Regions from separate parts of the Homo sapiens genome. Here region 1 is linked to region 2. Evidence: fine-mapped expression QTL. A gene starts in region 2. The other region holds a variant in brackets. All regions are shown on one strand. Distances are from middle to middle.

Evidence for each region.
Region 1: its variant is fine-mapped to the expression of TOMM34 in whole blood (TOPMed, PIP above 0.99).

The regions. Positions count from the first base shown.
Region 1 is chr20:45,079,475-45,094,979 of GRCh38, reverse strand. It overlaps KCNS1 (potassium voltage-gated channel modifier subfamily S member 1), which reads left to right. Exons shown (of 4, transcript NM_001322799.2): 4 at 1-3,766. The coding sequence ends at 110. It overlaps STK4 (serine/threonine kinase 4), which reads right to left. Exons shown (of 11, transcript NM_006282.5): 11 at 14,959-15,505. Among named protein-coding and RNA genes, the nearest start is that of KCNS1, 14 kb to the left of the region's middle. The variant C/T (reference allele first, on the strand shown) is at 6,537.
Region 2 is chr20:44,951,367-44,966,871 of GRCh38, reverse strand. TOMM34 (translocase of outer mitochondrial membrane 34) reads left to right here and starts at 6,475. Exons shown (of 7, transcript NM_006809.5): 1 at 6,475-6,665; 2 at 10,387-10,486; 3 at 11,652-11,804; 4 at 14,870-15,039. The coding sequence starts at 6,539. It overlaps STK4-DT (STK4 divergent transcript), which reads left to right and starts at 414. Exons shown (of 3, transcript NR_038341.1): 1 at 414-755; 2 at 1,187-1,310; 3 at 1,424-3,078. LOC124904912 (a long non-coding RNA gene) reads right to left here and starts at 11,656. Exons shown (of 2, transcript XR_007067599.1): 1 at 11,252-11,656; 2 at 7,335-8,535. STK4 (serine/threonine kinase 4) reads right to left here and starts at 360. Exons shown (of 11, transcript NM_006282.5): 1 at 269-360. The coding sequence starts at 303. RefSeq lists silencers at 286-535, 6,217-6,296 and enhancers at 6,527-6,616, 6,627-6,676, 7,457-7,546.

The DNA of each region.
Region 1 (15,505 bases), 130 kb before region 2:
GGGTGTCGGAGGCATCTCTGGAGACATCCCGAGAAACCTCTCAGGAGGGACAGTCTGCAGATCTAGAGAGCCAGGCCCCCAGTGAGCCTCCACACCCTCAGATGTATTAAAACCAGGGATCCGTGACCCCCTGCCATGCCCCTACAGTAGAGATTCCTCCCCTGCTAAAGTTCTTCATGGTAGTGAGCCTCCCAGGATCACTCATGCTGTCCTGAGAAATGAGATTCAAAAGCTGCATTCCTTCCTCCAAAGGCCCAGGACAGGACAGTGCTACCCTAGATTCTGTGAGATTCTGCAAGCAACTCAGAAAGCTTTATAAACCTGCCTCCAAGCCATTCATGAAGCAGGCATGAGCCAGAGGGAGGAAGTTGAAAGGATACTAATGATTCCTGAGCACCTCCTGTACATGAACCAGGTCATGTTTGGCCTTGTGTTGGAGAAAGAGAATTATCCCCACTTCACAGATGAGGAAACCAAGGCTAAGAGATGAGCGATGCCTCTCCCAGATGTCACAATTAGAAGTGGCAGAGTCAGGTTTGGAATCTGGGCTTGTTGGTGTGCCTGGAGCAATGCTCCATCAACTCCATCTTTCTTCTGCCCTCATGAAGTTTGCGTGTGTTTTTTGGTGATTCATGGATCCCCAGAGTTGATCCACAAGATAAGAAATCCCTTTCAGAGCCAGGGAAGGGTCCAGACAGGAGATTTGGATATAGGAGCTCTGGATCTCAGCTGTGGTTCCTTTCTAGGAGCATCCAACAGGAGTCAGCAATCAAAGATGAGTCCTGGAGGGAAGGAGGATGAGTCCTGGGAGGAAGTACCATAGCATTGTACTTGCCTCTTTAGCTGGTATGCAAGATTTGCTAAGCAATAATCTTCCGACCTTCCTCCCAGGGCTGATGTGAGAGAAAGAAAATCTGAAGGGCCCCTGGCCTGAGATCTAGACAACCTAGCTGCGCCAAGACCTGCTGTGTAAAGTGGTCCAATCCCTGCCCCCAAGTCCAGATTCCAGCCCCTCTGTCAAATGGTCAGAATCTGTGACCCAGAGGGCAATGAAAGCCAAGGAGAGCAGAGGGGTCTCTAACTTAAAGCCAGCTCAGCTCTGAAATGTTCAGAGGGCTGACATATATGAATACTGGCTTCTAAGACCCTCCCCCAACAGTCTGACCTTGGCAGTTCCTTTCTGCCCATCACACAGACGTCCAGCCCTACATTGTCCAGCCCTACCTAGAGTACCCATCCAGGCCCATGTGTGAGAGTCCTCTCCCTTCTGGCCAGCTCCAGCCCCCTCACCCTTGCTGGGGGCATATCTCTCATACCCACCTGCTGAATCTTCTCTTCACTTGCTGAGAAAGTCAGAGGAGGGGATCCAGTAGCCCTTTCCACATACTGTGGCTACAGCACCCAGCACTGTGCTGTTGTTGTCTGACTGTGGCTATCTCTGTCCCATCACCCTGAGCCTCAAGATGGAAGACATTGTCTGCTTGAACTCTGGGCTTGGTGCAGAGTAGGTATTTGGTAAATGTTGAATAGATCAACCAATTCCTACAGCCCACTGGGTGCCAAGCTCAGAGGGGGAAAAAAAGATAGCCAGAGAGAGACCTGGCCCTCAAAAAGGTGTGAACAAGACTGAAAAGGAGGTCCGTTCAGCTCCGCCTGCCCTGTCCCTGCTTGGTTCTTGAAGTTTTTACAATATATTCCTTGTAGGTTCTTCACTCACTCACTCAACAAATACCCGTTGGAAGAGTCTTAAACTGGGGCTTCATGTGTGGCCTGCAGTCATGTTTCGGCTTAGTCCAACAGTGTTTTTATTATATTTTAAGAATCTGAATGCCTTTGCGTGAGGCATGCACTCTCAGGTTCCCCATAGTGTCTCCCCCGCTGCCACCCACAAACAGACACACATGCCGTTGTGTTATGCCCAGCCACTCTGATATACTGGCTTCTGACTTATGGGCTGCTTACTAGTCTCAAGAGATACAGTGGTGGAAAAATATATCCCTATACTCATGAAGCTTACCGACTAGTAGGGAAGATAGACTCTAATGCAATAATCACATAAATATAGCGAGCTCTACTAAGTACAGGTGTGTATAATGTATCAGGGACCATGGCCCGAGAAAGTGAGAAGGCTTTCCTGAGCAAGTGACAATCTAACCTGCCATCCAAATGATAAATTGCTAATTAAGCAAATGAGGTTCCAGGGGGGAGTACTCCAAGCAGAGAGAATGGCATGTGTGAAGGTGTGTGTCATACACAGGGCCTAGTACATAGTGGGCCCCCTACATACGCATGGATTCTGGGTCTCCAGATTGGAACAGAGGATGGAGCTAAGCAGCAAAGGGCCTCCCTTGAATTCACCACACACATACCAGCCCTTCTGCACACTCTGCTCCTTACATCTAGGCCCAGCTGAACCCAGGTTAGGGGCAGATCAGAAGGGCTGCGTGTAGCACCCTTATGGTCTTGCAGAACACACCAAGAAACCCGACGGCTTCCATATTTTCTGACCCTACAAACAGGTCCCTAATACTGATGTGGAGAAAGCTCAAGAGGGAATCATCTGGCCTGAGCCTACCATGAGGCTGTTTGTGGTCCTGGCAGAAAAGCAACAACTCGCTCCCCTTCCCATGTATCAGTGAAAACCATTATGCAAATAAAGAGCTGGGCCCCAGGACGTGTTTCTGCTTGTATGGAGATGGCTCCCTGACATGCTGTCTGAGTGATTGGAGAGGGTGGGCAATATGTGGAATGACTTGGAATCCACATTCTCAGGCTCCAGTCCTGGATTTGGCACAAACTTTGTGGTTGTGCCAGCCAGAACAGGTTGCAAGTGACAGGAATTCAGTTGGAACAAACTTGGTCAAAAAGGGTAATTTATAAAATAATTAAAGTGATGAATGACTGTTAACAATTAGAGTTTGAGGGTATAAGCAACAAACTGACATCAAGCAAAAAATGAATTTATTGGAAGATATATTAGTTTCCAGCAGCTGCTGTAACAAATTCAAACAAACTTGATGGCTTAAAACAGTAGAAGTGTATTCTCTGACAGTTCTGGAGGCCAGAAATCCAAAATCAAGATGTCAGCAGGGCCACCCTCCCTCTGGAGACTCCAGGGGGAAACCCTCTCCTTTTCTCTTCTAGTTTGTGGTGGCTGCCACCATTCTTGGCTTTCCTTGGCTGTGGCTGCATCACTCAAGTCTCTGCCTCTGATCTCACTTCAGTGTCTGTGTATGTCAAGTCTTCCAGTGCCTCTGTCTTACAAGGACACTTTTGATGACATTTAGGCCCACCAGGATAATCCAAGATGACCTCATCTCAGGATCCTTAACTTAACCACATTTGCAAAAAGACCCTTTCCCAAATAAGGTAATAGTTACGGGTTCCAGAGATTAAAATATGGACAGGTGTTTGGGGCCACCATCTGGCCCACTACAGAAGGGTATCTGTGAAATTCACCCGACCAAAGGAAGAGCTGACTGACGAGGCCTCAGGAAATACAGGAATGAGGGGAGCTCTAGGGACCTCAGTAGCAAGACTCATGAACCTTCTGTTTAAGACACTGCTACCCACATGATCTGCCTCCAGTCAACTTCCTTCCCTGTATCATCCTGCTCACAGTTCCAATCCCAGGAGAGAGTCTGATTTCACTTGAGTCATATGCCTCTCTCTTGGGAGGGATGGAGGGCAAGGTACCGTATTAGTATTTGCGGCAGTTGGAGGAAAGGTACTTACCCAAATAAAAGACCACCTATTGTCACCAAAAGAAAGGCAAAAGTTATTGATAAGCAAAAATAGCATACCATACACTCCCATCCTTTTCCCATACACACGATTTATGCATGTTTCTAACATAAGGAAACTCTCTTATATATAACCAACATATACCGATCTCCCCAAAGGAAAGACACCCTATGGGGCATATCCTGTTCATGAATCCAGCTATAAGTTCATTCTTCCACTGGTACCACTAATTCTGTCTCAATATCCTGTAATATAAGGAATAAATGGTAAATGTAACTGCCACCAGCATACCCTATATGATACTAGAGGAAAGGAAAAGAAAAACACAGCAAGGAGGAAAAGAGGCCATTGCTATGTCTTCATTTCTGTAATGGTCATAAGGCTGCTGCTGGCATTTATAACATCCCTTCTCTGTGAGCCATGTCATGCCCCCTGCCTTTGGCCAGCACTTTAGTTGGTTGGGATTCTTTTTTTGATGGGGTAACCTAAACCTTTATTCCTAGCGAATCTGAGCACTTGTTAGTCCTGCTGGCATGTGAAGATTCCCCAAGGAATTCCATGGAGTTACTTGCATTCCTTTCTGCCTACTTTGTGTAGCAGTAACCATATTTCCCCTTGACAGGGTGGTTGATTACCCTAATCAAGACTGTAACTCCCTTTATACACACATAGGGAAAAGAAAAGCTCCGAAAGTCCAGGTGACAGGCTCAGTCTCCGATTCAGGGTATTCTTCCTTGAGTACCAAAGAAGTATTCTTCCCTTGGGTACCAAAATCTCTTAAGTCAGCAGAGCTCAGAGTCATAGGATAGGAAGCAATAGATTTGCAAGTGGGTCATTGGGTTTAATCAGAAAACATGCAACTTGATTGAAAGCAAACTTCTCATGCAATCAACTTACATCATTAGGGTCTACGTGAGCCAAATCCCATGTACCCATGGATACACTTGATGATGGAGTCCTTACTAGGCATGCTTGACTTTCTATCTGGATGGATGATATCGTAGTTTGTCACGTTGGGTCATCAGATTACCTGATATCCCATAGTTAGGCCTTCATTCACCATCAAAGCCCAGTAGCAAGCCAGGATCTGATAGCGGTAGAAGCAACAAAATCCAAATTAACACTGTACTTCTTTTGTGGTGATAGAAGTACTACACATATGTCCAGGGTACTGGACACTCTAAGAAACTTCACTGAGATGCACTGGATTTATCTCCCACCTTGTAAAAGGTGTGTCTTACCTACAGAGCTGAAGTGTCTGCTCCTTTGTGCTCTCCAGGCCCTGTTAATGTGATTTAGTCAACTGATTTAGTCAAAATTAGTTTGCTGTCTTTTAGAATAGGGATATTCGGGGAATCAAGGCCTTCCTGTTACAGAGCTGGAGAACAGAGGTATGCCTGAGTTAGAACAGTAAATGAAAACTCTTATCCCTTCTAGGTAATAGCAAAATGCTTCCAGTGGTTTCTGTTCCTCAGAGTAGAGAGTGAAACTAGTAGATGCATGACTCCAGGGACTGTAATGATGAGCATATATCTAACACAACAGTTAAAAATGGAATTATCACCTGACTAAAGTAATCCACTGTCATTTTCCAAGACCCATCTAATTTTGCACCTACCAGAGGAAATTAATGGTGTTTTGATTGGAGTCATCAGCCTGCAAGGTCTTTGGTAGAAACACTAATCTCTGCAGCCTCCCCTAAAGATATGTTACTATCGTTGACTTTTCTATTTTGAAACAGTTGTTCAGTTGTATTCTATTGGCCTTTTATATCACAATGGCCCTCACTTCATGGGTCAGAGAGCCAATATGGGGATCTTTTCCAACTATCTCTCCGAAACTGCTGATATAGAATAGTTTTGGAATTCCATTAGGCCTCCAGTGGCATGGACAAAAGCCAAAACACTTTTTCACATGATAGATGGACCTACAGTGGTACTCTTGAACCCAAGAAACTGGTATTAGCTCGAAGTCTTCATCAAGGTTCCCTGAATGGTGTATTTCCCTTTCCCCAGTATCCATTTACCTTGGGAAATGGCCACAGATCCTTTTGGAGAAGGCAAGAGAAATATTCACATTACACTCATGCAATATAGCAGAGTCCTTCCTCAAAGGTGAGTAGCATATCCTTCAATCAAAGGGCTTTAGATCAATAAACGCAAGCCCAGTGTTACACAGTGGCTCAAGTCGTGACTTTTTTTTTTTTTGCCAGAACTAGAGGGTGTTTTTGGTTTCCATTTTGCTTTGTTTCTTATGTTTTGCTGGTTAAACAAATCAAGTAAGACTTTAGTGGGTTGCCTTTAACTTTTTAGGGCCCTACACTGTGGCAGTGTGCCACGGTTACTACTTGAGACCATCATTACGACAGCTTACTACTGTTACTGCCTGAGACCGTCATTACAAGACTGAATGAAGGGACGAACATAGAAATGAAAACTTAAGACAAAAGAAACTATTTTAAAGGAAGGGGCCGGGGAAGAAGAAGAGAGCTCCCCGCTTCTAGTGAGCAAAGGCAGCCCCCAAGCTTCCACAGTCCTTCCTATTTATTGGGTAACAAGAGCAGGGAGGAGGAGGTAATGATTGGTCAGCTGCTTAACTGATCACAGGTTCATATTGTTACTAACAGGCTTCAGATGTACCTAATCACAAGAAACACTATGCTTGGGACGTGACTGCCCTCAGCATTCCTGCCGGGTGGCAGATGCAGTTCGTCGGTTTGCCAACATTCTGCATTTATGAGAAACAGTTTGCTGCTTACTCATATAGCCTCCAGTAGTATATGGAGTTGATCA[C/T]GACCCTCATCATTTCGGCCTGTAACACTACACCATGAGTTCTTGCCTCATACAGAGCCTACTGAATATTCCAGTGATCACTCCCACTTCATTTCTGAGGATGAAGTGCCAACGCCTGGCCTCCCACATCTCTGCATTCTTCTTCCCCTCTGAATCAGGCAACCTATTTCAAATTGCAGCCCCTCCACCCAGCATTCTTGACTTTCCTCAAAGCAAGGGTAAAGTGTGAGGGCTACAGTTAGAGGTATTTGTGGGAAGGAGGCACAAAATAGATCCAATCCAGCCTCCTGTCTTTCAGAAATCTTTGAATCTCTTCTTCTACATGATGCCAAGGGATTTGGGGCCCTTAAGTTCCATTTCACGTGGGCCAGCATTTGTTTTAAGTTTGCATTAGCCAACTCATCACATTGTTAGAGCCTTGCCAGCTCCTGGAGCTAGCACAGAGAATGCCAAATAATCCCTGGCAAGTGAAACCATATCAAGAAGATCAGCCTGAGCCAAGATTACATTCCCCCTTCCTTGATAAAGCACCACAAAAATCCATTTCCACAGATACTTCCCCAAATTTTTGATGGTGTCAGTTAACAAGTTTCTTCAATTCTGTATGGGTCCAGGATTTTTACCTACTGTGTCTACTTGTCATGCTCTAGGCCAAACTGATCCCCACCTTCCAGCTAAGTAGCCTTGAGGGATGGGGCAAGCAGAAAATTGTGAGCTTTCTCCTCTAAGAAAAGGTGTGAATTGTTTGCACCCAGTGTTTTAGAGAGCTTTCAGTTTTCTCCCACATCCTCTCATATGATCATTCCACTTGTCATAATCCCACTGCCTATTAATGCCTAACTTCACAAAGTGCAGCAGGGCTGTGAATTCAGCAGCCTGCATCATCAATTGCCAACTTTGGTATTTGGAGAACTAGGCCCTACTGCAAGTCATAAGAGAGTCTTTTACCGTAGTCATAGAAATGCTGTCCGTTCATTCTGTTTATGAATTTTTTTTATGTTAAAAAAAAAGGCATTGGGGCTTCCTTTGTTGACTCTCCCTTTATATTAATCTATGTGGTTAGAAACAAAATACTCTATCACACAGCCTGAACACTCCTCACTTCCTTAAAATTAACTGTGACACGTGTTATCCCTTCTCTGAGAGCCTCCTCAGTGGTCAGATGCTATGAAGTAATGTAAGACATAGGTCTTTACCATTGCAGACCATTGCTGGCTTCCCAGACTAGAGCATGAGCAACAACCTCATTGTATTTTGCCCCATCACAGTCTTAGGAAATATCCCACATTTCCTAGAGGATATGGTGTCTACAACTCAACTCTAGTTCCAATTTCTGTATCAGTTAGGAATTTTTGGTTGCAAACAACAGAATCCAACTCTGGAAAACTTAAGCCAAAAAAGGACTGCATTGGAAAGGTACTGGATAGGATCAAAGTCAAATTAAACAACAAGGCTTTGAGAAAGACAGCAATTCGAGCAACATAGGGATTGAGGTAGGTAAAACTCATAAATCACCTCTTTGGGGCACTACAATTAAAATAGCTTAGTGACAACTGCCTCCATTGTATAAATCACTCTGCTCAAGCTAAAAAATTCTCTGAAGATTGAGTCTAACTAGACTGGTTTGGGTCATATGCTCATCACATGATTTCGGGGTGAGATGGGAGGAACTATCACAGACAGTCCCACCAGGACATAGATGGCAGAGGGGTAGCTCCCTGAAGGAAGATGAGGGTCCTTTCATTAAAATGAGGGGAAAGGATCCAGGGGAGACAAAACCAACACATATCTTTTACAATACCACTGAGTGAGAATGGCAGCCAGGCAGCTTGGTTTCAGCAACGACGAAATCAAGAATGAGAGAGAGAGACAGAGAAACAGATAGACAGACGGAGAAATTGGTTTCTGCATCACATGGTAGATAACAGGGTTACCAACATCTCCCAGTTTGGTATCTTGTAGCGCCTCCACTAGAGAACTTCCCATTTCCAGTTTGAAAAATCTGATTGGCCCAGAGATTGGTCACCTTGGGTGAGATGACTGGATCACTCAACTGTGGCGAAGGGGTTGGATCATGTGAACCTATGGCTGGGGTAGGAGTCAAGCAGTTCCCAGAAGAGGGAGTACAGGACGGATCTCATAGTAATCCCTTGCAGTCTTGCTCTCTTGGTCTTCAGTTTCAACTTCTGTAAAATGGAAGGATAATGTCCAGAGATGTTAGGGAGCAACTGGGGGCATGTGGGACAGCTCAGCACATCTGGGCTCTGAGATGTGATGTGCTTGTTGTTAATGATAAACAAACTGAGTTTCCCCCTCTTTGCAGTGACCTCAAGGTGGCGACTTCCCTTGTGAGTGAGACATAATATTCCTTAGGGATTATCAGATTGAAGATCTGCCCCCTCTCCAGCCCCATTTTACAGATCAGAAAAGAGAGACCCAGAAGTCCAAGGTCAGACAAGAAGCAAATCCCATTCCTCAATCCCTTTGAGTAAGAAGAGCTGTTCAGCTCAAATAAGGGCCAAGCAGGGTGTTTACACTGGGACATCAGAGTGGAAGACTCCAGTTGACTTATATGGTACTCTTTGAAGCCCCCAAGAGTGAAGATAGCCTAGCAAATAATAGTCATCCTCCACATATCCTTGTCACTGTAATTTGCAAAGTGGTTTCACATACATTATCTCATATACTTCTCACAACAACTCCACAAGACAACAGCAACAACAATAAAATAGTAGTATCACCACTGAACAGATGAAAAAACCAAGATCCATGGTCAGACAGTTAAAAAGTAGCAGATCAGGGATTCAAACTCAGGCTTTTTAATACCAGATTGTACTCACTCAGCACCACTTCCCACTATTATCACTTTGTCTGGTAAACTTAACTCCCCAGGCACCACTGAAGGAAGTGGCTTTGAAGTGTGCGTCCTATAATGAGTTTCTTCTATCTGAAGGCTCTGGAAACAGCCCTGAGGTGCTGGCTGGGATGGTCCTCAATACCAGACCTCATACTTCAGGCCAGTCCGGCCCTGCCTGTGTGGAAAGAATTCTCCAGGAAGTTAGTAAGTTGAGAAGATAATCTTCTAAGACAGGAGTCTTTGAGAAGGAAGGGGAGGGGGTGGCACAGGGAATGTCTTTCAGAATCCTGTCTGCTAGAAAGGAAGAAAAGGACAAGGGCAGTTGTAGACTGGTATTTAACCTTGCTCAGAAGGGTAGAGTTCAGAACCCTCAAGAAATTCATTCATTCAAGAGGAAGAATTGCACACACCTTGGTTTTTGAAGTCACATCTGGGTTCAAATATTGGCCCTGCCACTCATCAGTGTGTGACCCTAGATTGGACCTGTTGACCTCTAAGGGGTATTATTATCAGGACCAACCCCCAACTGGTATCCAACCCCCACCCCACCTCCCTGCCATCTTTTCCTACATACCTAGATCAATAAGGAATCTTTCAGGTACAAGTGAAAGAGACCCAACAAAGTGACTTAAGTACAGGTGGATCCAGAGGTTCCACTGAAGTCATCTTGTCATTTTTCCCTGCTTCTCTCTCTGCTCTGTGTTTCTGTGTTGGCTTCAGACAGTGAGTTATTTACAATATTTGAATAAAATGGGAGAATATGAGGGATGCCATGCGATGCAGAGGAAAGAATGTGGTTAAGTCCAGCAAGTTGGGCTTGAATCTGCTTCTTATGAGGTGTGTGATCTTGGTTGGGTTTCTTTGTCTCTCTGAGCCTGTTTCTTCACTTATCTTGGTTTAATAACACCTACACCTCAGAGCGTTATGGGCAAGTTCAAGTAAGATAATATGTATGAAAATGCCTGGCACAAGGTTAAATATTAAAGAAGCCCAAAAAATGCAAAGCAAGGAAATAGAGCTCAGCAGCCTCTACCAGGGCTCTTGTTTTCCTCTGGAGGGCAAAGCAACTCCAAGCAGAGGGCACTGGGAAAGGAAGGGGTTTGCTTATCTAGAGATCACAACCTGGACTCACACTTGAGGCCATAGTTGGGGTCCTGGAGTGAACACTGGAGTCAAGAAGCCTAAGTTTGAATCCAGACTTGACACTGCCAAGTCTTGGGCCTCTGTTGGATCATTCATCAGAACAAGATGTGGCTGGGATAAATGCTCATGGGCTAAGAGTAACCACCCCTTACATCTGCAGAGGCCTAGGTAGTTTCCAAGGGGCCTTCCCATCCATGGTCTTGGAAGCTTCTAAAAGAGCCCAGTGGAGTAGAAGGCAAAAAGTCTTGTTTATTCAAGTATAAAATACATATGGGAAAAAAAAGCACAGATCCTAAGAGTTCACATTGATAAATTTTCTCATCATGAACACACTTGTGTAACAAGCACTCAAAGAATTAGAACCTGAGTAGCACTGTAGTCCCTCCTCATACTCACATCCAGTCACTACCCCACAACCAACAAAGGCAATCGTTGCCCTGACTTTTAACATCATAGAGTAGGTTTCCTTGGTTCTGAACTGTATATAAAAAGAATTGCACAGTATGTACTAGTTTGTATCTGGATTTTTTATTGTGGCAAAATACATATAGAATTTACCATTTCAACCATTTTTAAGTGTAAAGTTCTGTGGCATTAAGTACACTCACATTGTTGTAAGAACATCTGTCTCCAGAGCTTTTTCATCTTCCTCAACTGAAACTCTGGGCCCATTAAACACTAACTCCCCATCCCTCTCTCCCTCCCTCTGCCAACCACCATTCTACTTTGTCTCTATGAAGAGACCTTGCTACTCTAGGTACCTTATGTAAGTCCAATCATGTATTTGTCCTTTTGTGACTGGTTTATTTCACTTAGCATAATGTCCTCAAGGTTCATCCATGTTGCAGCATGTGTCAGAATTTCCTCCTCCTGAAGGCTGAATAATATTTCATTGTATGTGTAGGCCCTATTTTGTTTATTCATTCATCCATCGATGGATGTGTCTAGCTTCATTTAAATGTTTGAGAGATACAGCCATATTGTTGCATGTAGTGAGAGACTGAATGTACAAATGGACAATCCCAGAATATATATATAAATAGAACTTTGACCCACAACCTGCAGTAACCTGCCCAGGAAACCAACCCCATATCTACAATAAATAGCCCAGGTTGCCAGCCTGCTATAAGTCAGACTTGCAGGAAGACAGATTGCTATCTCCAGTGGCAATCCAGGAAGCTAAACAATAACTTCTGTAACAATCAAGCCAAAATGGTCAGGACTTGATTAATAACTGACAGCTTCCCCAATTTTTGTCCCCACTTCCAACTTAGGATCAAACAGAGAAACCAAATATGCACCCCTAAATCAATCACATAGGATGTCCTGCTTCAAGTTAGCCCACCTACAGCTTTCCCATGCCAACAGCTTCCAACAGGGCATCCCTGAAGCCTTCCTTTTTTTTCTACTTTCCCATTCCTTTGCCTGCCTTTGAGTCTCTGCCAAAATGCAAGTAACAGTGGCTGACTTCTTTGCTGTAGCAAGCTCACAATACCCTTTTGCTTATTTCCACAGTAGCTATAGGTAGCTCATTCTCGTTGTATAGTATTCCACTATGCGAATCTACGTAATTTATTTATGCTGCCACTGGGCATCCAGATGGTTTCCAGTTTGGCAAAATTATAAATAATGCCATTATGAATGTTCTAGTATATGTCTTGTGGTAAAAAGGCATACACACTTCTGTTGAGAAAATACCTAGGGAAGGAATGCTAGGTCATGGGTATATTCACCAGTACTCGAGTTCCAGTTGCTCCATATCGTCACCAATACCTAGCATTTCTATTTCTTCCATTTTAGTTATTATGGTGGGTACACGGTAGTAATGCATTAAGGTTTTAATCTGTGCAGTTGTCCCTTGGTATCTGTGGTGAATTGGTTCCAGGAACTCTGATGGATACCAAAATCTGCATGCAGATGCTCAAGTCCTTGATATGAAATGTCCTAGTATTTGCATATAACCTATGCACATCCTCCTGTATAATTTAAATCATTTCTAGATTACTTATACCTAATACAATGCTACACAAAATGCCTAATGTAAATGCTATGCAAATTACTGTTATACTGTATTGTTTAAGGAAGAAAGACAGACACAATTTTTTTTTCTTTTCTGAGATGGAGTCTCGCTCTGTCACCCAGGCTGGAGTGCAGTGGCACAATCTCGGCTCACTGCAACTGCTGCTTCTTGGGTCCAAGCGATTCTCCTGCCTCGGCCTCCCGAGTAGCTGGGATTACAGGCCTGCCACCATGCCCAGCTAATTTTTGTATTTTTAGTAGAGACAGGGTCTCACCATGTTGGCCAAGCTGGCCTTGAACTCCTGACCTCAAATGAGTTCTTGGCCTCCCAAAGTGAGATTACAGGCGTGAGCCACTGTGCTGGGCCATTTTTTTTTTCTAATATTTTTGATCCATGGTTGGTTGATGTAGAACCCATGGATACGGAGGGCTGACTGTATTTTCCTGATGACTAAAGTTGAGCACTATTTCATGAAGGCATAGTTTCAAAATGCATAAATCTATCATGCCAGTTCCTTGCTTAAAACCCTTTGACGGCTCTCCATCTCATCAGGAATAACACCCAAACCCCTTCCCATGGACCACAAGGCCCTGAACATTCTTGCCTTCACCCACCTTGTACACACTGTTCCAGCCATGGAAGAATCCTTCCATTCTTCCAACAAGCCAAACTTTTGTTTTTATCTCAGGGTCTTTGTTCTTGCTGTCCCCTCAGCCTGGCTGGTTCCTTCTTGTCATGCAGTTCTCATTATAAACATCGTTTCTCCAGAAGCATCGTTTATCATTCTATATAAAGCCATCTCTCCCTACACATACACAGATGTGCATGCACACACATGCACACGTTACTCTCAATCCCATTACCCTGTTCTTTTCTTTTTGCTGTACTTCATCATTCTCTGAAATTACCATGTGTTTACATGTTACATAGACTTTCTGTGAAAACAACAGCTACAGATCTAAACCAATCTTGAGTGAGTGACTCAAAAATCACAAGCATCGCTGTCACTGATGATGTGGTTTTCTGAAATGGAGAACAACTCTTAGTAAAGGTCCAAACAAAACAAACTACAAGTGTCTCTCCATTCTTCATAGTTCATTCTTAAAAAAAACAAAACAGTAAAACCATATAAAAAGTACTTTGTGTTTACATGTAAATGAACTTTGGTTTAGTATCACGTTTATAAACAAAATTTTCACCAAAATTAATAACCAGTGGAACATCTGAATGTTGTGTTGGACACCGGACAGATGTTTGTTATGCAGGACTGTCCCAGAATGCACTGCAGAGCATCTAGCAAACCTGCCCCTGCCCATTAAATGCTGGTAAGGCTCCTCAATCACTATCACCACAAAAACACTCTCATACATTTCCAAAACACCCCCTGGTGGGCAGTACTGCACACTGTAAAAGTCCATATGTCTATAGAAAGGGTACACTATCATTTACCTAAGAGTGTGTGTGAGAAGACAAATGAAGTCATCTAAACGGCTCTGCATTGTGCCTGGCAGATAATAAGTGCTTAATAAATATAAACTTACTTCATCCTTCCTTCTTTCCTTCATCTGGCCATAGGTTCTCAGTGTGATCAATAAGGAACATCTGTCATCAACCCTGGCTACAGGAAGGAAGGTACACTAAATATTTCAAGGAGTGAGGTGAGTAAGTTAGGGAACAATAAACGCACTTATCACCCCACTCCAAGAAAGGCCCACAGAATAACATGACAGTTATATACACAGACTGTGGAACTATTCTATTAAATACTGTAGAGCAATTTCACTCAAGAGAACTACACTTACTTTTCAATGTAACTCTATTCCCTCTCTGCCGTGGGGTCAACTTTTAAGGCTGAAAAAAAAACCTAGGGTCAGGCTGGAGAACTATTCCTGGATAAGAATGGGCCACACCAGGGCAGGAACCTGCTGTTCCACCTCTGAATGCTGGGCCACGTCTGGCCTGGCTTCGTGCAGCAGCAGATGAGGATGAAGGATTCCAAGGTGATCATCTCACACTAGAGGCTTTATACAGGCGGGCTCTTCTGTCCAGGATGTCTTCTCTCCCTCACTTCCTACTCTTTATTAATCTAGCCATCTCTTCTTCATTTTTAAAGTTTCAAGGTATATTGTCTCCTCTAGAAGAGTTTCCTTGGACATCCCAGCAGAACCGTCACTCCCTCTTCTGTGTATCCACAGGCCCTGTACCTTCTTCTACCATGGTATGTTCAATGTTGTGTGTTTTTGTGCTTGGCTAACTCCCCAAATGCCCTGCAAAAACTGTATCTGGTTCATCTTTATTATATTCCTGATAACTAGCTCAGTACCCTGGCACATAATAGAAGCCCAACAAAAGTTTACCAACCTCTCCCCAGCTTTGGATCTTAGAATAAACACACCACTGAGTCAATGTCACAAAGATTGTTCACAACACCATTATCCAGGCTATATATTGAGGTTCTCGTTAATAAGGGTTTGTGGTCCAAAGGACAGTTTATTTAAAACAAACGTGATGAGGTATAGGAAGAAGAAAAGAAGGAGAACAACAATTCTAACATAAAAACACAGGAAGCATCTCAAACTTAAAAAAGAAAAAAGGAGTGGGGGCAATGGAGGAAGCTATGTCTCATACAAACTGCTGACCTCAATTGATTACTTACATCCAAACCTTACAAAATAGCATTTCAAGTCAGCACTTAAGCCAGTGTTATTAGATTTTCTTACAAAAAGTTAAAGCTACAAACTTCACATTTTTAAACTGTACATAGCAAAAACATTTAAGCTTTTTTTTTTCCAAGTTGGTCCGAGTGCAAGCTGGTAAAAGAGATTTTTTTTCCAAACACAAACAAGAACATGTATTCCAAAGACAATGAATATAATACTGATAAAAACACAAACATAGTGCTTAAGAAAAGATGGGGTGAGGTGGAGATGTAGATTGGGCAGGAACAAT
Region 2 (15,505 bases):
GTACTCTCCCTAACTTGTCCCCACGTTCCTCAGCACAGTCTCACCACAGCGAGTGCTCCCTCTAACCGGTCCCAAGTCTAACCTCCTTAGCAGATGCTCCCCTCAGCCGGACCCTCACCCACCAGACGTCCCCCCCCTCACTCAGCAGGTGCCCCATCGGCTGGGTCGCTTAGCTCCGGGGACTCCCACACAGGTGTATCCCCTCAACCAGTTCCCGCCTTTTCTTCCCCTGACCCCATGCCCGTCCTCTTAGCCAGTGGCCCCTCACCGGCGCGGCGGGTTCCTCAGCTGTACCGTCTCCATGGCGCTGCCAGCAGCCGCCCAGACCCGCTCACTGCTCCATCCTCCCGCGGACCTCCTGAGCCCGCCCCGCAGACCCTCCCACACTTCCGCTTTCCGCCCCTACCGGAAGCGGCGCGCGGCGCGGGAGCGGGGCGGAGCCACGGCCCTGATCACGTGGTTCGGGCGTGAGTCTTGTGGCGCGGTGGGGCGCGGACCCGGAACCGCCAAGTGGTGAAGGCGCCTCCAGGCGGTGCCCGCTGGTCTCTAGAGTGTCAGTGGCGCTGTCTTCCTGCGTTACCGGAGCGCACAAAATACTCGGTCCCCAGGCCGAGAACGCACCTCTACCTGGGTCCTGGGTCCCATTTCACAGACTGAGATGCGTGAAGCGCCTCCTTTAGAAGAGCTGACAATTCTTAGCAAACCAAGTTTTGCGTGATTTTGGGGAGGCGGCGCTGCCCCAGGAACGCCTGGAGGTATTTGTGGTTTTCTGCCGCTTACCTGGTTGAACTCTGGTCCCAACGGGCCCCCTGCACATTTTCTCCTACAATGCATCAACGCGCAAATTGCCCCACTGTCTTTCTTAAAGGCCTCCCCTTTAAGTCAGTTTGCAGACATAAAAATAAGCAACATTAATTAAGCATTTGCCGTGTACTTGTCTTCATATATTATCTCATTTAATCCCCTGTGTCAAGCCGATAAGGTCATCCCCGTTTTTATTTATTTAATGATTTAACACAGTCCCTAAACGTTTTCAGTGCTTTACCTCATTTAATACTCCTAACAACCTAGACGGTATTATTATTATTCCTACTTCATAAGGCCAGAGAGGTGAAGTATCTAGCCCAAGGTCACATAGCTTAGAGTATAGGTTTGGGGATTTAAATCCAGTTTGGTCTGATTTCAGGGCCTGCACCACCAAACTGGACAGCCATGGGTGTGTAACCTCTTTTTGGGCCTGAGAAACAGACCTTTCTCTCCACTCAGAGCTCCGGCTTCAGCTATTGTGCTTCCGAATGCCACTACCATCAGTAAGTATTAGGAAAATGGCAGATTCTACCCAATTGACCCATGGGGAAAGTTATAGGAGAAAACTTAACCAGAGCAACCTCTCACTGTTTTTAATTGCCTTGCTTTTCCCAAGGATATGCCATCTACAGAACTTAACACCTGAGCACCCACCCTTCAGGGCCACCCATGGGCCCAAAACGGGATAAAGGAGCCATTCCCTGACATAGGAGGAAAACATTTGCTGAGAAGCTACTGTGTGCCAGACACAATCTTGGACTTTCACTTAATCCTCAAAACAGCCCTAGGAAGAAGTACCTACCGTTAACAGATAAGAAAGCTGAGACCCACGGTTTACACAGCTAAGGAGAGCAAAGGTTTTAACCCAGGACTGTCCTGACTCCACAACATCAAAGTTGTTGTTTTGTTTTTGGTGTTTTGTAGAAACAGGATCTCCCTATTATTACCCAGGCTGGTCTCAAACTCCTGGGCTGCAGCAGTCCTCCCACCTCGGCCTCCCAGAGTGCTGGGATTACAGGCAAGAGCCACCACACCTGGCTGATGAATAGGAATTGGGTAAACATTTTTGAAAATTAAATACCAAATTACCATTACACAATGCCAAACAGACCTCCTTTGTCCCCTTCCCAGGATTTTTCCAGAAGATGGACTCACATTATGATGGCCCCCTTTTTCCGCAGAGTGTTCCCAATGAAAATTTCTGAAATGATGGGAATGTTCTAAATATGTGCTGTCCGAAATAGTAACCATTAGCCACATATGGCTATTGAGCACTTTAAATGTGGCTAGCATAACTGAAAGGCCACATTTTTATTTAAATTTAAATTTAAATAGCAAACCGTGGCTAATCATAATAATAGCTTAAGAGAGAAATGGTGAGCAGGGTTACTGGGAGAGGTATTTTCCTATAAGCTCTGGATATACAGTTGACCTGGGAACAACAAGGGTTTGAGCTGCATGGGTCCACCAATACAACCCTTGTTTTGTTTTGTTTTGTTTTCAATAAATACAGTCAGCCCTCTCTATCAGAGGGTTCCACATCCACAATGAAACATGGTTGGAAAATACAGTATGGGATGTGAAACCTGTGTATAGGGTGGGCTGACTTTTCGTTTCCATAGGTTCTGCAGGGTCAACTATAGTACATGAGTATACTCACATTTTAGTATCCTAATAGATCCTCAAACCAACACCTGGCAGAAAATGGGGAACAATTGCATAACAGTATTCAAGGGACTGGGTATGATGGCTTGCACCTGTAATCCCAGCACTTTTGGAGGCCAAGGCAGAACAGGAGTTCGAGACCAGCCTGGGCAATATGGTGAAACCCCTTTTCTACAAAAAACTTAGCCAAGCATGGCATATTTGTGTAATGCCATTTGCATGACCCACATGGTCACCCTGGACCCCGTGGATCAGGCCCTGCCTGGTGCCACCACCGCCACTTCTGTGCCAGGCCCCCAGTGTGATGCAAGTTGCATGATGCTCTTTGCTGTAGTGCCTTTTAATGGCATAGCTTTGGCAGGTTTGGAGATGTTCAGAATAGGCAAATCCTGTGGTGGATTTGTGGTTGTCTAAGGCCCTGGTGGAAGGGAGCATAGGTGAATTGGAGGGGATGATTAAAAGGTGTGAGATTTCATTTTGGGGTGATGAAAATGTTCTAAAATTGGTTGTAGTAATGGTTATACAACTCTGAATATACTAAAAGGCATTGAATTGTACACTTTCAATATGTGAGTTATATCTCAATAAAGCTATTTTACAAAAAAAGACACCTCTTCCCAGAAGACTTCTCTGTTCCCTTGTCCCTCCCCTGACCCTCTCATCTGTCCCTCCTTCAAATTATTTCAGTACTGTTTTTATCAGTCCTGGCATTTATAGGAAGCACTGCAGGAAGGGATTTCCAGGTATTGACTGCTGTGTAAGAAACCACCCCAAAGTTTATAGGCATAGAACAACAGTCTTTTTTTCTTCTCAGAAATCTACAATTTGAGCATGGCTCAGCAGGAAGGCTCATCTCTGTTTATGGTGTCAATCAGGATCAATCAGCCCTGTCCAAAAGGCATTTCACACAGCTGACAGGTTGGTGCTAGCTGTTGGCTGGAAGCTCACTTGGGTCTGAAGGCTAGGGGCGTCTCCATTTTTCTTGAGCTTCCTCACAAAATAAAGCCTGGGTTCTAAAGCATGTTCCCGAGGGAGAGCCAAGTGGGATGCTGCAGTGCCTTTTAGTGGAAGATACTTAATGTCATTACCACTGTGGAGGGGGGCCACAAAGGCCCACCCAGTTTCAAGGAGAAGGGATGCAGACTCCACCTCCTCATAGGGCAGTGGCAAGGGTCTGGAAGAGCTTGGGGAACCAGAAATATTATTGGGGCCATTTTTGGAAAATAAAATTTGCCACAGCTACACTTATCCGATAAACCACTCAGGAAATATTCAGCTGCAAGCAAGTGAAAACATCTAAATGTTGGCTTAAAGCACCATGGCATTTACTGTTTGTTTTGAGACAGAGTCTCGCCGTATTGCCCAGGATGGACCACAGCAGCCCAGTGATCTGGGCTCACTGGATTCAAGCAATTCTCCTGCCTCAGCCTCCTGAGTAGCTGGGATTACAGGCGCATGCCACCACGCCCAGCTACTGTTTGTATTTTTAGTAGAGATGGGGTTTCACCATGTTGGCCAGGTTGGTCTCAAACTCCTGACTTCAAGTGATCCGTCCACCTCGGCCTCCCAAAGAGCTGGGATTACAGCTGTGAGCCACCACACCTTGCCTTTATTGTTTATTAATAAGCTAATAAGTCAGCAGTTGATTCAATGACTCAGCAATATCTATTTCATTTTTTCCCCTCCCATCCTACTCAGCATGTTGGCTTTTCATACTTGTGTTTATTGCCTCATGGTTGCAAAATGACTGCCACACCTCCAGGTATCATATCCTTAACCCAGCACTACCCAAAGCAGAAAAAGAGCAAGAATGGCTACTTGACCCAGTACCTCTCTGTTATGGGGAGGGAAACCTTTCCCATAAACACTCAGCAGACTCTTTTTTTTTTTTTTTTTTTTTTTTGAGACGGAGTGTTGCTCTGTCGCCCAGGCTGGAGTGCAGCAGTGCAATCTCAGCTCACTGCAACCTCCACCTCCCGGGTTCAAGCTATTCTCCTGCCTCAGCCTCCTGAGTAGCTGGGACTACAGGTGCGTGCCACCACCCCAGCTAATTTTTTGTATTATTAGTAGAGATGGGGTTTCACTGTGTTAGCCAGGATGGTCTCGATTTCCTGCCTTGTGATCCACCCGCCTCGGCCTCCCAAAGTGCTAGGACTACAGATGTGAGCCACTGCGACCAGCCTCAGACTCCCTTTTATCTCATTGCCCAGATCAGCATCACATGTGCATCCCTTGATGAATCACTGGCAAGAGAAAATGACATTTTTCTAATTGGCTTAGAGCAATCCTGATTCACTTCCCCAGGCTGGGAGAGTCTCAGGCAAAATTCAGGCTCCTGGAAGCAAAGATGGAAGTCACTGAGTAGCCAGCCAGCAGCATGGGCCTCATCTGGTTTTCCCACCACAGTCAGTGTTCATCCTTGGTCGGGGCAGAGGGCAAGGGGAAGCATTTCAGATGGAACAGCCATCCAGCCCTCAGAAAGCTTATAGTCTGGTGGAGTTAAGTGTATGCAGATCATTATAACTGAATTCCTGAAGGTAGAGACTAGATCTTTATCAATCAATGACTTTTATTGGATGCCAGACCCTATTAGGGTCTTGGATAAACAAAGATAAAAAGGACCCACTTCCTGCCATTAAAGACCTCGCAGTGTTTAAGGAAAACTACAAACTGGCAATCAAAGGGTGACTAATGCAAAGTTAGGGATAAAGCTAGAGACCAATAGGGAGCAAAGGGAGCATAGTGGGGGGTGGGGAGGGGGCTGGAAGCAGGAAAGGCTTTCAGAGAAGATGATGTTTGAATGGAATGTTATAAGTTAATTCAGGATTAGGCAGGAGAAAAAGTATTTAGAAAAAAAAATCCAGGAGAAGGAGATAACAAGCAAAGGCTAGGAAGCAAGAATTTAGTGTGTGTAGATAGCAATGCGTGGGACATAGAGTCGTCAGATGAGGCTGGAGATAAATTGAAGTCACACTCTGTGAAAGATCTTCATCCATTCTGAAAGCTGATCATACGAATTGGGTCATTCTTGTCATATCCAACTAAGACAGAATTGAAAAGCCAGGGGAACAAATACTCAGGGCATATAACATTGCTCCAAAAAAGTAATTTTTTGCAAGCCTGGCTGCTAAAACTGCCTGCTGTAACCTAAAACCAGTTTTATCTAATAGCTACTGAAACAGCCTGCTACAATTCTGAGTTTTATCCACCACTATCACTTACCAATCAAAGCTTGCCAGCTCCCCAAGAAGCTGATAAACCCCCACTTTACTAGTGCCTGTAAACTTCCTTGAAGAGCAATATGTAACATTTCTGTTTTATAAAAATCTCCAAACCTTCTCTTTGTTCTTCTGACATACCAAAGACAACCTGGTCTGTGTGTAAGCCCTGAATTGCAATTCTTGATTGCCAAATAAAATATTTAAACTTTAGAGATTCATCTCTATATGTTGACTTTGACACCATCAATCCACCTGTGCATTAATTTATTAAATAAATATCTATAGAGCACTAGGTACCAGGTACTTTCTAGCCTTGGAACCTTTGCACTTACCATCCCTCTGGCTGGAACAGCATTCCCTAAATCTTGTCTGGTCTCAGCTCAACTATTACCCCCTGAGAAAGGCCTTCCTTCATCCCCTTATTTAAAATAGCCCACACGTGGTCACTTTCCATTGCATTATCCTGTTTTGTTTTCCTTACAGCACTAATCACATGAAATGAGAGTCTTCGTTTGCTTATCAGTTAATTGCCTGTGGGGACCCCACTAGGACATAATCTCCCTGATAGCGGGGCCAGCCTCCTTCCCTGCGTCATCCACGGCGTTCTAGCAACTCAGGGAGCCCAGAGCATGCTGCCGCCCCGCGTGCAAGGGAGCCTAAGTTCCAAACCGAGCACGCGCAGAGGGCGGGACGCTCCGGGCCTCCAGGTCTCGCAGGCCCCGCCCCCTCGCCGCGGGTTCGCTGTTGGGCGGAGATATTCGCCGCCGGCGCTTGCGCCCGGAAGGTGTGCCGCACCACACGGGGGAGGAAGGAAGGAGCTCCCAACTCGCCGGCCTGGCCACGGGATGGCCCCCAAATTCCCAGACTCTGTGGAGGAGCTCCGCGCCGCCGGCAATGAGAGTTTCCGCAACGGCCAGTACGCCGAGGCCTCCGCGCTCTACGGCCGCGCGCTGCGGGTGCTGCAGGCGCAAGGTACGACCCCGGCCCCCATCTCACCTCCGGGCCTGCTCCTCCAACTCCCGCAACCACCGCCCGGGCCTCGCGCGGCGGCCAGCAGTCCTGCCCGGCCCTCCCACCCTTCCAGCCCCTTCCGACTCCGGCATCCTACCAGAAACTTCCTCGGCCCTTTCTTTCCACCTGCTTGTTAACTGCCCTGTTGGCCCCCATCCTAAGTTATTTAGGCCTCGTTCTGAGCCCTGAGAAGAAAGCTAAACCCTCCTCCCCCGCAGCAATTCATTTTTCAGTTAGTATTTGTTGAGTAGCTGTTATATACCGCCTGTGTAACAAGACACAAAAAGTCCCTTCTCTCAAGGACAGCGCATTCTTGTGGGGGCGGTGGGGAGGACGTGAGTCTTAAGCGAGTCAGTAAGTAAACGAGACCTGTGGGATAATCAGGGTTAGGAAGAAGACAAATAGGGTGATGTGATAGAGTTGACTGGAGTGGGAGATCAAGGGCAACATCTGTAAAGAAGTGATATTTGAGGTGATGTCTAAATGATGAGAAGCCAAGCGCACAAGGTTTTCGGTCCTGAAGTGAACTGCAATGAGAAAGGCCCCCCCTCCAAGACGATATAAACATGGTGTGTTTCAGGGGTCAAAGCATAGTGAGCCAGGGCAGGGAATAGGAAGACATGAGGTCAGTTAGGAAGGCAGACCCTTATTTATTGTGGAGGTGTTGTAAACTCTGCTAAGGAGTTCGGATTTCATGCCAAACTGGAAGCTTGGCATGAAAGCTGCTGGATGGGAAGCTACTGGAGAGTTTGAAACAGAAGAATAGCATATTCTTACCAGTTCTCCCAGCGTCCAGCTTTCGTCAGCATACCGCAGACCTTTGCCCAAAGCCCCTTCTCCAGGGTGACTTAATCAGAAACCCTCATTGGTTAAAGCCTTGACTTTTGAAAGGAGCCTTGGATCCTGGTTTCTGTGAGTCACCGTTCAGTACCTATTTCCCTTTGCCGCCTTCCTTTTTTTCCTTTTCTTGGCTAGCATCTCTTGAGTGATTTACCATGTGCTAGACATTTTAGACACGATCTCCTTTGATCTTTATTATGGCCCTGTGGATAAAATGCTTAGAAAGGAGGAGTCCAAGAGAGTTAAATTGGCTCCCTCGGGGTTACATAGTGAAGACATGGAAGAGCCACGATTTGAATATGGATCTGTTTGACTTTGATGCTAAGTCCAAATTTTTAATCATTTTGCTAGACCTCTCCTCACATCCTCTCCAGATTTCATTCTTTTTTTTTTTTTTTTTGTCTGCACTTTTTGCAGTTTCAAGCCACTCCTTTGCCCCCTTCTTTGTTCTAGAAAACTCTCCTTTAGGCCCACTTCCTCATGGCAGCCTTACTTGATGAAGTTGCTGAAGAAGCTGAGGTATTGATGTTGCTGCCATTTTCATTCATCTCACCCCAGCTGGTCTGGAAAAGCTTGTACATTTGTATGGGTTAATTCTGGGTCCATAGAAAAGCTAGCCTGGTATCTAGATTTAGCAAGGACCGGAGTTTGGTTCTGCTGCTGCTACAGATTTCCTAGGTAATTTTGGGCAAGTCTCTTGATTTATCTGATCAGTCTTCTTGATCACGAAGAGAGCTCAGGGAACAGGCTAACACAATGAACCCTTCCAGCAAGTCTATGAAGTGATATCCTCATGTGGTAGGTGGGCACGCATGATCAGAGGGATGGAGTGACTTGTCCGGATCGCAGGGTTGATGCCCTTTCCACCGCACCACTGCTGTTTCTGAGCAACCGTACTCTGGTGACTCAAGATGGATTACAGGTTTTGGGTACTTAGCTCCTTAAGGGCAAGGATGTATTTTACTAGTCTTTGTACTTTCCGTCTCTGGGCCTGGCAAAACAAGAGGGGAAAACGCTTGTTATTGTTGGTATTGAATGAAAGATATCAAATATCAACATGGCAACAGGATACTGAGTGAAAAAAGTAAGTTGCAGAAGGATAGGCAATATGATGCCTCTTAGGAAATGCTTTAATAGACATAAAATGGTATCTTTCCTGTTAACACACACACACACACACACATATATATACATATACATATATATACATGTACATGTATACATATATACATATACATATATACATATATATGTAAATGTAGAACATGCTTGAAAATGTTACATACCAACTTCAGGATTGTACTGGCCTCTGTGAGTCTGGGGAGGGAGCACAGGGATAAGGATGGGGATGGCTGGAGTTTTAGCTTATCAAAAAAATTTTTAAGGGTTGGGTGCCATAGCTCATGCCTATAATCCCAACACTTTGGGAGGCCAAAGCGGGAGGATCACTTGAGGCTAGGCATTCAAGACCAACCTGGGCAACACAGTGGGACTCTGTCTCTACAAAAACTTTAAAAATTAACTGGGCTTGGGGGTACACACCTGTAGTCCTATCTGCTTGGTAGGCTGAGCTGGGAAGATCACTTGAGCCCAAGAGTTTGAGGCTGCAGTGAGCTATGATTGTGCTACTACACTTCAGCCTGGGCAACAGAGGGAGACGCTGTCTCTAAAAATTAAAAAAGTTGGGAACTAATATAACGTGCTAAATCTAGTGGTGGATTCTGAGATAATGGTCTTCTGTATGTTTCAAAATTTTCAAAAAGAGACCCTGTTTTCAATTCTTTTTAAAATAATGGCCGACACTAGTGGGTATGAAGTGGTTGAAAATTATCTTTAAAAATAAAGATCATTGTTGGTTGGGCACGGTGGCTCACGTCTGTAATCCCAGTACTTTGGGAGGCCGAGGCAGGCGGATTGCCTGAGGTCAGGAGTTCAAGACCAGCTTGGCCAACATAGTGAAACCCTGTCTCTACCAGGCGTGGTGGCGAGTGCCTGTAATCCCAGCTACTCAGGAGGCTGAGGCTGAGGCAGGAGAATTGCTTGAACCCAGGAGGTGGAGTTGCAGTGAGCGGAGATCGCTCCACTGCACTCCAGGCTGGGCAACAGAGCAGGACTCTGTCTCAAAAAAAAATACGTAAATAAAGATCATGGTGGCCACAGTGAAGGACTTGAGCCTCTGCGATTCCTGAGGGTAAGGACTGCCTTAGAAGAATGTCTAATAATTCTCCCCATGGGGTAGCTTAAGACTTTTTCCTGATTAAGTTCTCTGTACTCCCATCACACCCAGCTCAATTATCATTTCCCTGACAAAGTCCTCCCTGGCTTGACCAGGTAAAACTAGTCTCATGTCTTTCATGGGTGTTTTGTGCCCCTACAACTTTTGGTCAATCCATTTATCATACGTTTATCATCTTGTTCCCTCCCTCCCTCCCTTTCTTTTCTTTTTTTTTTTTTCTTTCTTTCTTGGATTTAAATGCTTTTTGTAATAAAATACACACCTATCCATCCATTTATCCACCCAAACCCAAGTAGTTACAGCATGGATTTCTTTGAGGCAGAAGCTAGCTATTTCTTGTTTATCTTTTGTCTGTTATCAAGTTCAGTGCTGGAATGAGTGAATGAGGAAATACTTGGTTCCCTTTGAATGGCAAAAAGCGCAGTGTCCTTCTGTCACATAAGAATGACAAACACGCCAGCCCAGCAGACCAACAAGCCTGAACAGGTTATAGTTATCTCTACTGCCTTAACACAAGGCCCAAAGAGCTCTGAGTTTGAAATGTATCCTAATGCCCTGAGGCACCCATTTTCCAAACTGATCATCTTCCCCACTCTATCTGGGCAGGTTCTTCAGACCCAGAAGAAGAAAGTGTTCTCTACTCCAACCGAGCAGCATGTCACTTGAAGGATGGAAACTGCAGAGACTGCATCAAAGATTGCACTTCGTAAGTGGCCAAGGGTAATTTTGGGATGCCTGAGGGTCTCAGAAGAGGAGGCTGGGTTAATCTGGCTTGTTTCTTCTTTGGAAGGATCCCATCAATTACATCTGGGACAGATATTAAGAAAGTGTCACTGAGTTTCACCAGGTCACTGAGAATGGGAGTCTTTATTTGGTCCTTATGGCCCGTGACTTGCATCTTTGGAGTCTTGGCTCTGCTGCCGAAAAAGGAGTGGGATGGGCAGTTAGAAGCAGGCCGTAAAGTCTTTGTGCAATTTGAAACCTGGGAATAAGGTGGAGTGGCAGACCAGTAACTGGCTTGCCCAGGTGCTTTTCTGGGATGGGAGTATGTGAGGGGAAGGGAGCGAAGGAAAGAAGGAGGAATAGAGGTTAATAGATTGTCTCAGAAGGAGAAAGGAAAAAAATGGTATTCATGAATGACCAGTTTTAGAGGACACTGAACAATGTTTCATATCTCTTTTTCTTCAAGCCAGTCTAATATTCTTTTATCATCATTAAACTCTCACATTTACCTGAAATGTGTTCTCAGATCTGATGTCCTCTGACATTGCTTTAGATTCCTGCCCTGGTGATAGCCAGGAGAGCAGGAGGGGTGTGAGCATACTCACAGAGCCTGTGCTGAATTAATTTGTGCCATGCCTTGTGCCAGATTTCCCTCTTTGAGTGTTCACAACCAATCTGTGGGGTACGGTTACCATGTGTCCCAGGCCAGAACTTGGTTGCTGAGGGTTGGGGCAGTAAAGTGATTTACCTGGGTCACATAGTTAGCAGCAGAGGTGGAATTCAGACACCACCCCATCTGACTCCAAAGCTTGTTTGTTATTCCCACTAGACCACAACTGTAAAAAAACATAGTAGCATGAAAGCCATGAGGCTTTTGTTCTTGATTTTGGGGGAACTGAAACTATGAAAATTGATGCATGTGCACACACATTTAACAAAATTCATGTTTCTCTGCCTTCTTTCTCCTCCTCACTTCAGTCTACGTTGAAAAATCCCTGTTCTGAGGTTTGGCGTTTTTAGCCATGTCTCTCGGCCAGAAATTACTTCCTGTACGCTGAGTGCTCCAGATAACCCTGCCTGGAAGAAACTGTAGGGAAACCCTGGTGGCTCAGCAGCCAGCCAGTTGACATTTTTGCCTCCTATTCTAGAGCACTGGCCTTGGTTCCCTTCAGCATTAAGCCCCTGCTGCGGCGAGCATCTGCTTATGAGGCTCTGGAGAAGTACCCTATGGCCTATGTTGACTATAAGACTGTGCTGCAGATTGATGATAATGTGACGTCAGCCGTAGAAGGCATCAACAGGTGAGCTCCATTCCCAGCAGGTGGTCTCCACGGCAACTCCCTGTCCTTCTTGATTGGCTGCGGGCCATTGCCTTGTCTGTCTTCTGAGGGGATCCCTTTGGCTACACTTAAAAAACTCCCGATGGGCATGTAGGGGAAGCTGAGAAAGGAAAATCTGCTTTTTTATTTAGCAGGTTTTCAGGGAGTCAATTACTAAGATTGATTGATTGATATTTGCCTACATGTGCCTCACAGTATCTATGTACACAGTAATATTTATTGTACACTGTTTAAGGTGTTGTGCCCGGTTCAGTGGGGGATACCAAAATGAGAAAGAGATACAGACCCCACTTACCTTCAAAGCGCTAACGCTAATTAGAAGAATAAGACACAAGCCCAAGCAGCTATGACAAGCCTAAAAGGATATGGTTTGTGGACATGGTTCAGTATATTGCACTGTGACCAATCCAAGAGGTTCCCCAGGTGCAATTCCTTTCTGGTCTCTGAGCAGTTATTGGCTTTTATCTCATGGATATTGTCATTTGTATAACTGATCATGTTTCCCCTCTGCGTGTGCGGCTAGAAAGCCAAACACTGCACTAATAGCAAACCCTTAACAGGGACTTCATGGTATGTATTTAGTGCTTTATTTCTGGCTTGACTTGTCTGCCAGCATTCTTTGTTTTCTCTTTGCCTCCTTTTTAACTTATCTGATTCCACAAAATCTACCAATTATGTGACAGACTTTGCTCTAGGACCTGGGCTGATGACTGAGACATACCTCTTCCTGCCGTCATAGAGGTCCCGGTCTCAAGGAAGACACCAGTCAGTAATAGGCAAGCACAATACAACATGATAAGCGCCATGGTAGGAGGCAGCACAGGGGGCTCTGAGGCCAGAAAGGAGCCACCTAGCTAGCTGAGAGGGAGAGGGGGAGGCCAGAGAGAGCTTTTCAGAGGAGGTGAGCTAAGAATGAGAGATATGGGGTAGGGGGTTAGCCAGAAGACAGAGCAGCGTGTGCAAAGGTGAGCAAGTGTGACAGATCACAGGAATTGTAAGAAGTCGGTTTCACATGGTGCTGCAGGCAGGAGCTCAGCTTGGGACAGGTTGGTGAGGCCAAGTCACACAAGACCCAGGGTTCAGGGCTTGGACTTAATCCTGAGCAAGTCAGCCTTTATGAAAAGGTCTTTAGCAGTGGAGCAACATGAGCAGATTTGTATTTTAGAGAAAAGCTCTTTGCTGCCATGTTGAGGGATGATATGAAGGGCAACAGAATAGAAAGGAGTCATGCAGCAATCCAGGGGAGAGGGTGGAGAGAAAACAATGGGACCAGTCAGGGGACATGTAGGAAGTATATCAACAAGCTTTAGTGGTTGCGGGGTATCGAGAAGGGAGGAATAGAAGAAGACACTCAGATTATTGACATTCAGTCGGAGGTGACTGTGGGACATAAGACTAGAGATCTAAGTAGGACGGTTGGGTATTTACATGGAACAAAGGAAGAAAATACAGGCCAGACATAAGGATTTGAGGGTCATCAGCGCAGAGGTGGATTAGGGCTGTGAGAAAGAAAAAGAACATCACAGCTAGTGTGAAGAGGATGGAGCTTTGAGAAACTCCAGCATTTGAGGGACTTACAGAGGAACAGCAGCTAGAGAGGTGGGAGGAAACAGGGCATTGATGTCCCAAGGGAAGGAGTATTTCAAGAAAGATGGAGACATCATTAGTGTCAGGTGTTCCAAGGAGCTTACATTAAAGGTTTGGCAATGAAGTCACCGGTGGCTCTGATGGAAGCTGGTCAGTGGGATCAGGAGCCAGAGGGCAATGCTTTCAGAAAGTCAGGCTTGAAGAGAAGCTGGGGAGTATACCTGTGATGGCAAGGGGTGTCCAGTATGGTTTTATTAGGTGAGGAAAGAGTTAAAGGGACTTAAATGCTGACGGTTGGAGTTAGTAGAGAGGAAGGATGAAGATGTGGGAGAGGGAGGTGCTGCCTGGGTGTGGTCCCTGAAAGAGGCAAGAGGAGATGGGATCCAGAGCTTAGGTGGGTGGATTGGTCCCATTGTCTCTTCTGTTGTGACAGGAGAGAAATAGGAAGGATTGGGCACCCAGGCAGGTAGGTTTGTATTTGGGGTATGAGGAAGTTTGCTCTAAAAAAGGGGAAGGGCCAGGGAACAGGTTTGAGGAGAGCAGAGGTTTGAAATAGCTTGGCCGCCAGGAAAACAGCCTAGCCAGAGACATCTTGGAATTTGTAGTGATACAGTCTGTGGTTTTTATTCTTGTAATATAGGAAACATGGTTGTAGGAGCAGAAAAAGTATACAGTTAGCATTATTCACTCATTCAACACATAACTGATTGGGCCTTGGTGGTTGCTAGGTGACATACCAGGTGCTGGAGATCAGTTGACAGAATGAACTTGGTCTCTGGGTGGCATTTTAAGCTGAAATCTAAAGAATAAGTTGGAGTTAGCCGGGCCTGGAAGGTGGCAATCTTTTTCCAAAATGAAAATGGTTGTTCTGGGTAGAGGAAAAAGCATGTGCAAAGTCTTGAACAGAAGGATCAGAAGAGAATGTGGCTCACAGTGAAGGGGGACAGGAAGGGGTGGGGACCAGATCTCACATGCCACATTAGCCTAGGGAATTGGGAACCCCTGAGGAGTTGTAAGATTTGAGAATGACATAAGCTTTGCATTTTTTAAAAAGCCTGAGCATTAAACAAATGTCAGGTGCTTGCATGGTTGTGTACTTGATTCATTGATAAAATATGAAACAAAATGTATGATTCTTTCTTGGAGAAACTATAGTCTTTTTGGATCATGGTTTAAGTATCCTTAACAAGCAACAGATCACCACTTTAAAGGTAACATAGTTTGACCAAGCTCAAGGAATGTCATGGGGACTGATCTGAGATGGTGTTTATGGGTTCCTGTATTGCACGTGTTGGAGGAGCTAAAGAGGTGGTTCCGACCAGGGGGAGGGTGGCAGCTCTGGCTCTTCTGAAAAGGCCTACCTCCCATGGGTGTGTGAAAGGAGAAATATCTTCTTGACCCAGCTGGAAACCTCCCTGCAATCCTGCCTTCTTTTCCAGAATGACCAGAGCTCTCATGGACTCGCTTGGGCCTGAGTGGCGCCTGAAGCTGCCCTCAATCCCCTTGGTGCCTGTTTCAGCTCAGAAGAGGTGGAATTCCTTGCCTTCGGAGAACCACAAAGAGATGGCTAAAAGCAAATCCAAAGAAACCACAGCTACAAAGAACAGAGGTGAGCTGTGACTCCCTGCCCAGAGTCTTGCAATCTCCCACTATCCATTTTCTTTAGAGTAGTCCTGCAAAAATTGGCATTGTTTAGCTGAGTTATAAAAATAATCTTAGGAACAAAGTATAAAACAAAATACAAGTCTTCACCTCTTAGAGACTGTTTTCTCAGCTGTATAGTGAGGGTGATGATAAAGTCTTCCTCACAACCATGAGGACTGAATGACATAAGACATGTAAAACTCCCAGCCTGGCACATAGGCATGCAGTGTGAGTTCCCTTCTCTTTCCTCTGGTAGCACTTGGGATGTAGTACTTAGGATGTTTTTGGTTGCAAAAACAGAAAGCTCAACATGGTAAACATAGTATAGGGAATTTATTGGCTCATAAAACTGAAAAATCCGAGAGAATTCAGGCAAGGTTTGCTCCAGCAGCTCAGTATATTAACAGACTAACTCCATTTTTCTGTACTTA